Homo sapiens: one gene and its partner. The protein of the gene in region 1 purifies or fractionates together with the protein of each later gene. This does not show direct contact. Each region holds a gene or a part of one and is shown on either strand. Other genes may lie near its edges.

Evidence for each region.
Region 2: the proteins of SHOX (region 1) and PKNOX1 purify together in Homo sapiens (affinity purification with mass spectrometry; one large-scale study listed by BioGRID and IntAct). This does not show direct contact.

What each region holds. Positions count from the first base shown.
Region 1 is NC_000023.11:644,201-648,013, forward strand, and holds part of SHOX (short stature homeobox protein), read left to right. Parts: intron 1-190; coding exon 191-436; 3' UTR 437-3,813. UniProt on the Homo sapiens protein: Controls fundamental aspects of growth and development.
Region 2 is NC_000021.9:43,026,404-43,030,216, forward strand, and holds part of PKNOX1 (homeobox protein PKNOX1), read left to right. Parts: intron 1-2,298; coding exon 2,299-2,471; intron 2,472-3,486; coding exon 3,487-3,698; 3' UTR 3,699-3,813. UniProt on the Homo sapiens protein: Activates transcription in the presence of PBX1A and HOXA1.

The DNA of each region.
Region 1 (3,813 bases):
TCCAGTGGCAGCGCCAATTCTGGGCCAGGGGGAAGGAGGAAAGGCGGGTGTGGGGTGGTCTCCACGGCTGGAGAAGGGGCGACGCTCCCTAGGGGAGAAGAGGCACGTTGGAGGTTTCCGGGGGCGCGGGGCGGAGCAGGCCCCCCAGTCCCCATCCTGCGCCCTCACCCCGCCGGGTCCGCTCCCGCAGGTCCAGGCTCAGCTGCAGCTGGAAGGCGTGGCCCACGCGCACCCGCACCTGCACCCGCACCTGGCGGCGCACGCGCCCTACCTGATGTTCCCCCCGCCGCCCTTCGGGCTGCCCATCGCGTCGCTGGCCGAGTCCGCCTCGGCCGCCGCCGTGGTCGCCGCCGCCGCCAAAAGCAACAGCAAGAATTCCAGCATCGCCGACCTGCGGCTCAAGGCGCGGAAGCACGCGGAGGCCCTGGGGCTCTGACCCGCCGCGCAGCCCCCCGCGCGCCCGGACTCCCGGGCTCCGCGCACCCCGCCTGCACCGCGCGTCCTGCACTCAACCCCGCCTGGAGCTCCTTCCGCGGCCACCGTGCTCCGGGCACCCCGGGAGCTCCTGCAAGAGGCCTGAGGAGGGAGGCTCCCGGGACCGTCCACGCACGACCCAGCCAGACCCTCGCGGAGATGGTGCAGAAGGCGGAGCGGGTGAGCGGCCGTGCGTCCAGCCCGGGCCTCTCCAAGGCTGCCCGTGCGTCCTGGGACCCTGGAGAAGGGTAAACCCCCGCCTGGCTGCGTCTTCCTCTGCTATACCCTATGCATGCGGTTAACTACACACGTTTGGAAGATCCTTAGAGTCTATTGAAACTGCAAAGATCCCGGAGCTGGTCTCCGATGAAAATGCCATTTCTTCGTTGCCAACGATTTTCTTTACTACCATGCTCCTTCCTTCATCCCGAGAGGCTGCGGAACGGGTGTGGATTTGAATGTGGACTTCGGAATCCCAGGAGGCAGGGGCCGGGCTCTCCTCCACCGCTCCCCCGGAGCCTCCCAGGCAGCAATAAGGAAATAGTTCTCTGGCTGAGGCTGAGGACGTGAACCGCGGGCTTTGGAAAGGGAGGGGAGGGAGACCCGAACCTCCCACGTTGGGACTCCCACGTTCCGGGGACCTGAATGAGGACCGACTTTATAACTTTTCCAGTGTTTGATTCCCAAATTGGGTCTGGTTTTGTTTTGGATTGGTATTTTTTTTTTTTTTTTTTTTTTTTTTTTTTTTTGCTGTGTTACAGGATTCAGACGCAAAAGACTTGCATAAGAGACGGACGCGTGGTTGCAAGGTGTCATACTGATATGCAGCATTAACTTTACTGACATGGAGTGAAGTGCAATATTATAAATATTATAGATTAAAAAAAAAATAGCCGTGCACTCTTGACCCCGTCAGCGTCCAACGTGGAAAAGGCGTTACCTCTTCTCCCAGCGCTGGCCGCCTGGCCACTGAGGGCCCTTTGCAAAAATCACGGGTGTAGAGATGGCCCTGGGCGCGCTGGGAGTGTGGTTGTGTTTCTGAAGGGGATAAAAGAGGGCACGGTGGTGCCAAGATATCAGTTTGGTACCTGAGCTGTTTCTGGTTGGGAAGCGTAAAAGCCAGGGAGAGATCCAGAGAGTTTTCAAGTTTTTGCAGATGTAGGTGGTTCCAGCTTTTCTTTCTCCCCTACTCCATCTTCTGCGTTCCCCCAGTTCTTTTATTTCTTTGTTTTTTATTTTTGAGACAGAGACTTGCTTTGTCGCCCAGGCTGGAGTGCAGTGGCGCAATGTCAGCTCACTGCCACCTCCGCCTCCCGGGTTCAAGCGATGCTCCTGCCTCAGCCTCCCGAGTAGCTGGGACTACAGGCACCTGCCACCACCCCCGGCTAATTTTTTGTATTTATAGTAGAGACGGGGTTTCACCGTGTTGGCCAGGCTCGTCTCGAACTCCTGACCTCAGGTGATCTGCCCGCCTCGGCCTCCCAACGTGCCCCCAGTTTTATAAACAGCAGATAGCAACTTGTCGTCACAGCTGGCATGGGCTGGACAGTTGCTTGAAATGACCTAACCAAAAACATTCAAGGGTTCTGCCCCCAGATTTCGGGAGATCCACGTTCCATGTTCTGATTGGTTTTCTGGGAACACAGCAAGGGGTTTGGTGACCTCCGAGAAGATCCATCTGCATGATTGGCATTAGTTACCACAGCCTGCCCAGAGAGAAACTATCTTCTCCCAACATTTACTAACATCCACTGGTCAACTCTCTTATTTCCATAACACATTTGCATCTTTCTGGATTCAAGCTTGGTGGTTTTCTTTCCTAACTTCTGATTTAGATACTTCTCCCTGAGGTGGGGATAAAAGAAAAAAAAAAACAACTTCTTTTTTTCTTCCGCATAACACTTTCTATCTTGTCACTGAGCTGAACTGTAGATCCATTTGGACCCGTCTCATTTGTATCTTCTGATATTCTTTATACAAACCAAAAGTCCCCTTCAACATTTTTTATGTCAAAATGTTACAACCGCTGTAAAATGACGGAGAGAGAGAGAAAGAATCCCAGACATTAACGGTATTAGAGAGTTTGCCTCATTCATCCATTTTTCTTAAAAGCTGGAAATTAAAAAAAAAAAAGAGAGAGAGAGGCTTTAATAGTTAAGCTGAAATTTTTATCGAAAAGAAGAATTGCATTTTGAATCTTTGGGAAGTAGGTTCATTCATCAGAGTATGTAACCCTTTGGAAAAGTGGTTGGTAAGATATGTACAGCCCTAGATTTTTTTTTTTTAACCAAAAAGGCTGAGTAATTTTGAAAAATCGAAACATAACAGTGTGTCATCATTTCCTCCCAAGAAAAAGCTCACTCCACGTGAGTAGAAAGACATCTACCTGGTCCCTGTAGAATCTGAACGTTTCTCTTTAGAGACGGAATTTCAATCTTGTCCCCCAGGCTGGAGTGCAGTGGCACAATCTCGGCTCACCGCAACCTCCGCCTCCCGGGTTCAAGCCATTCTCCTGCCTCAGCCTCCCGAGTAGCTGGGATTACAGGCACCTGCCACCAGGCCTGGGTAACTTTCTGGTATTTTTAGTAGAGACAGGGTTTCAGCCTCCCGAGTAGCTGGGATTACAGGCACCTGCCACCAGGCCTGGGTAACTTTCTGGTATTTTTAGTAGAGACAGGGTTTCAGCCTCCCGAGTAGCTGGGATTACAGGCACCTGCCACCAGGCCTGGGTAACTTTCTGGTATTTTTAGTAGAGACAGGGTTTCAGCCTCCCGAGTAGCTGGGATTACAGGCACCTGCCACCAGGCCTGGGTAACTTTCTGGTATTTTTAGTAGAGACAGGGTTTCGGCCTCCCGAGTAGCTGGGATTACAGGCACCTGCCACCAGGCCTGGGTAACTTTCTGGTATTTTTAGTAGAGACAGGGTTTCGGCCTCCCGAGTAGCTGGGATTACAGGCACCTGCCACCAGGCCTGGGTAACTTTCTGGTATTTTTAGTAGAGACAGGGTTTCAGCCTCCCGAGTAGCTGGGATTACAGGCACCTGCCACCAGGCCTGGGTAACTTTCTGGTATTTTTAGTAGAGACAGGGTTTCGGCCTCCCGAGTAGCTGGGATTACAGGCACCTGCCACCAGGCCTGGGTAACTTTCTGGTATTTTTAGTACAGACAGGGTTTCAGCCTCCCGAGTAGCTGGGATTACAGGCACCTGCCACCAGGCCTGGGTAACTTTCTGGTATTTTTAGTAGAGACAGGGTTTCGGCCTCCCGAGTAGCTGGGATTACAGGCACCTGCCACCAGGCCTGGGTAACTTTCTGGTATTTTTAGTAGAGACAGGGTTTC
Region 2 (3,813 bases), on another chromosome or scaffold:
ACACACACCCATCATTAGTTCATGCCTCTGCTGGTAGCAGCTTTGAATAAGAATGATTTAAAAACACATTACAGGCCAGGCGCGGTGGCTCACACCTGTAATCCCAGCACTTTGGGAGGCCGAGGTGGGCAGATCACGAGGTCAGGAGTTCAATACCAGCCTGACCAACATGGTGAAATCCTGTCTCTACTAAAAATAGAAAAATTAGCTGCGTGTGGTGGTGCACACCTGTAATCCCAGCTACTGAGGAGGCTAAGGCAGTAGAATGGCTTGAACTCGGGAGGTGGAGGTTGCAGTGAGCCCAGATCGCACCATTGCACTCCAGCCTGGGCGACAGGGTGAGACTCAGTCTCAAAAAAAAAGAAAACAACCAACACATTACAGTAGCAGTGGGGCCTTCCCTCCCAGGTCTCGCTGGGGTTGTGGGTGGCCATGGAGCTTGTGCTGCAGGGATCACCAGGTTCCTCTAAATGAAGCATGGCGGGATCCGATCTGCTTCATTATTATTAGACTGTGTGCTAATATAATTGTAGATATTTTTAAATCTTGGACTTTTAAAATTAAGCAACCTTAGAGCTGATCCAGTTCTAGTGTTGTTGTTTTGCAGAGGGGGGCATTAAAAAAAGAAAGAAGTTGTCACAGTGACAAACCAGAGTAGAATCTGAGTCTAAAAGTAATGCTTTTGTTTCCCTGATATCGTGAACATGGCTACTCAGCTATCCAGATAGAGAAGTCTGGCTTTTAATAGATGAGCAATGTGTGACTCTAGCAAGAGGTCAACTACTTTATCATTCATGTTACTGAAAAAAGAAGACAGAAACGAGGCCTTAAGCATGGTTGGTATTGCTGCTTTTGCGTTAGGTTGGGGTAATGCATGAATCTGGACGGGTTCTGGTTTGATAGGCGCTTTCACGGGACAGATGTTGTTTTTCTTTCCGTTTCTTTCCATTTCAGCTCTTTTTGTAGCAAAGTGGCCCAGTCAGTGGCATAGGGTGGTGGGTGCAGCAGAACGCATGTCTGGTTTGCTATCTTTGTCCTCTAGTCACTGCAGGAGGAAAAGCTGGCCTAGGGATTTGAGTCTCCTTGCACTTTCTCACATTTAAAGGCAACAGCTCATAGCATAAGAATGGGAACTGAAGACAGCAGCCTTTAATCTTAATGTATTTTGAGATTGCTATCATACTCATTTGATATGAAACAATGTCCAGCCTGCCTTGCCAACCTGTGACTGTTGGGCCAGGTGCAGTGGCTCACATCTGTAATCCCAGCACTTTCGGAGACCAAGGCAGGCAGATCACAAGGTGAAGAGATCGAGACCATCTTGGCCAACATGGTGTAACCCCGTTTACTAAAAATACAAAAATGAGCTGGGCGAGGTGGTGGGCGCCTATAGTCCCACCTACTCAGGAGGCTGAGGCAGCAGAATCGCTTAAACCCAGGAGGCGGAGGTTGCGGTGAGCTGAGATCGTGCCACTGCACTCCAGCCTGTGCGACAGGGCGAGACTCCATCTCAAAAATACAGAAACAATGTCCAGCCTGCCCTGCCAGCCTGTGATTGTTGCTGCTCTCGTTCTCTGTGGAGTCTTATCACAGGCGTGAGTGCCTGGTCTGACAGAGTCGCCAGCGTCTGTCGGGGATTTCATCACTGCTGGTGCCTACGTGCTGTGCTGGCCACATGTCTAGGACCACTGGAGGACTTACGCCTCCAGTCATCTAAGAAACAGCTCATCATTGGGAATGGTTTTTGAAAAGATGCAGCTCTTGCCTTAGATCGTGCTTTGTGGTGAAACAAGAGGAGGTGGCAGTCCCATTCTCTGATGGCTCAGACACGTTGCCACCCAGAGGCTCGGCCCCGTTGGTGATCTGGTGACGTCCAGACGAGTGCAGACTGCCCGATCGTCTCAGGCATGATGGCACTACAGAAAGTCTTGCTTCTTTAACATTTTTCTTCCTTAGGGAAAACAGTGTCAGATTCACAAATTCAACAGTATCATCTATGTCGTTATGAGTATCTAGTTCACAAACATGCCCTAAAGGAGTTGAGACAAAAAAAAAAATGCCATGGACGAGTTGGTGCTTATTTGCATGATTTTTAAAACAACAGGCTCTGTGTTTCTGGGCATTTAGAGAATTCAGAAGAGCTGTTGAGTCCTCTTAAGTAGTTACTATAGTGGAGAACTTGAGTCATTCTTTGTAGCGTGCTTCGTAGAGCAGCGTGTTTGTTAGAAGGATTTGTTAATCCTGTATAGGGTCTTTACGAAGGCTGTTTTCATGGAAGCTTCTCTTTGTTGACTCCAGGTTCATCAATGCCAGAAGACGAATTCTTCAGCCAATGTTGGATTCAAGTTGTTCAGAGACCCCCAAAACAAAGAAAAAAACTGCTCAGAACCGGCCAGTTCAGAGGTTTTGGCCTGATTCTATTGCATCAGGAGTCGCACAGCCACCGCCGAGCGAGCTCACCATGTCGGAAGGTACAGGTGGCCGGCCAAGGCCAGACATGGTGGACCATGGGGTGGGGATTATGAACAAGAGGCCTGGATCAGGCCTGTTAGCTGTGAGCCTCAGGTAATGTGGTGAACGAGAGTGCGTGGTTCTCTTTCTCTGCAACTAAAACATGAGGAAGCTGCATTCTGCGTGCACGGGAGCTCTCAGTAAGAGTTAGGAGCACCAGTAGTAGAGAATGTAAAACACGTGATAGAGATATGAAATCATTAATTCTGTCTCAAAGACACAGTCATGCCCATGGATCTTCTCCTTTGCTTCTGTGTTTGCTCTCCTTTTCCCTCCGACGCCGGGTGTGGAGGAGGGACTTACCCCGTTCTCACCACGTGGCTTCTTTCTCTTCATCCCCCATGCCCTTCTCTTGTTTTTGCTTGTTCCCTGTGGCCTCTGCTCTCCATCCCCTGACGTAGGCAGCCATTCTGATGTGTTTTATAGGCATCTTTCTGTTCGCATGAGGTCTTCATATTTTGGATGGTTTTGTGTGCATGTGTTTTTATTTTTTTTTATTTGTTTGCTTTGTTTTTTTTTTTTTTTTTTTTTGAGACAGAGTCTCACTCTGTTGCCCAGGCTGGAGTGCAATGGCGCAATCTCGGCTCACTGAAACCTCTGCCTACCAGGTTCCCGCCATTCTCCTGCCTCAGCCTCCCGAGTAGCTCGGAGTAGCTACAGGTGCCTGCCACCACGCCCGGCTAATTTTTTGTATTTTTAGTAGAGACGGGGTTTCACCGTGTTCACCAGGATGGTCTTGATCTCCTGACCTCGTTATCCGCCTGCCTCAGCCTCCCAAAGTGCTGGGATTACAGGCATGAGCTACCGCGCCCGGCCCAGAAACAGTTTCTTAAATCCCTGTTGAACATTCCCTAAACATATATAGGTGTTTTATTTTAACTTTAGGTCAAACGAGCAAACAGCACCCAATTGAGTAATAAAGTGTTTTTCTGTGAGTACTAATTTAAATAATGACACACCTTCATCCTGCCGCAGGAGCTGTTGTCACCATCACCACGCCCGTGAACATGAACGTGGACAGCCTTCAGTCTCTGTCCTCGGACGGGGCCACCCTGGCGGTGCAGCAGGTCATGATGGCAGGGCAGAGCGAGGACGAGTCTGTGGACAGCACAGAGGAGGATGCGGGTGCCCTGGCCCCTGCCCACATCAGCGGGCTGGTCTTGGAGAACAGTGACTCCCTGCAGTAGGGGCAGGAGCAGACGCACCTGACTTTTTGGAGTTTGCACAGCAAACATTTTACACAGTTTTATTTCTAATATGTTTTATATGTAGATATAGAAGAGTGCACTTTTGTATTTCATA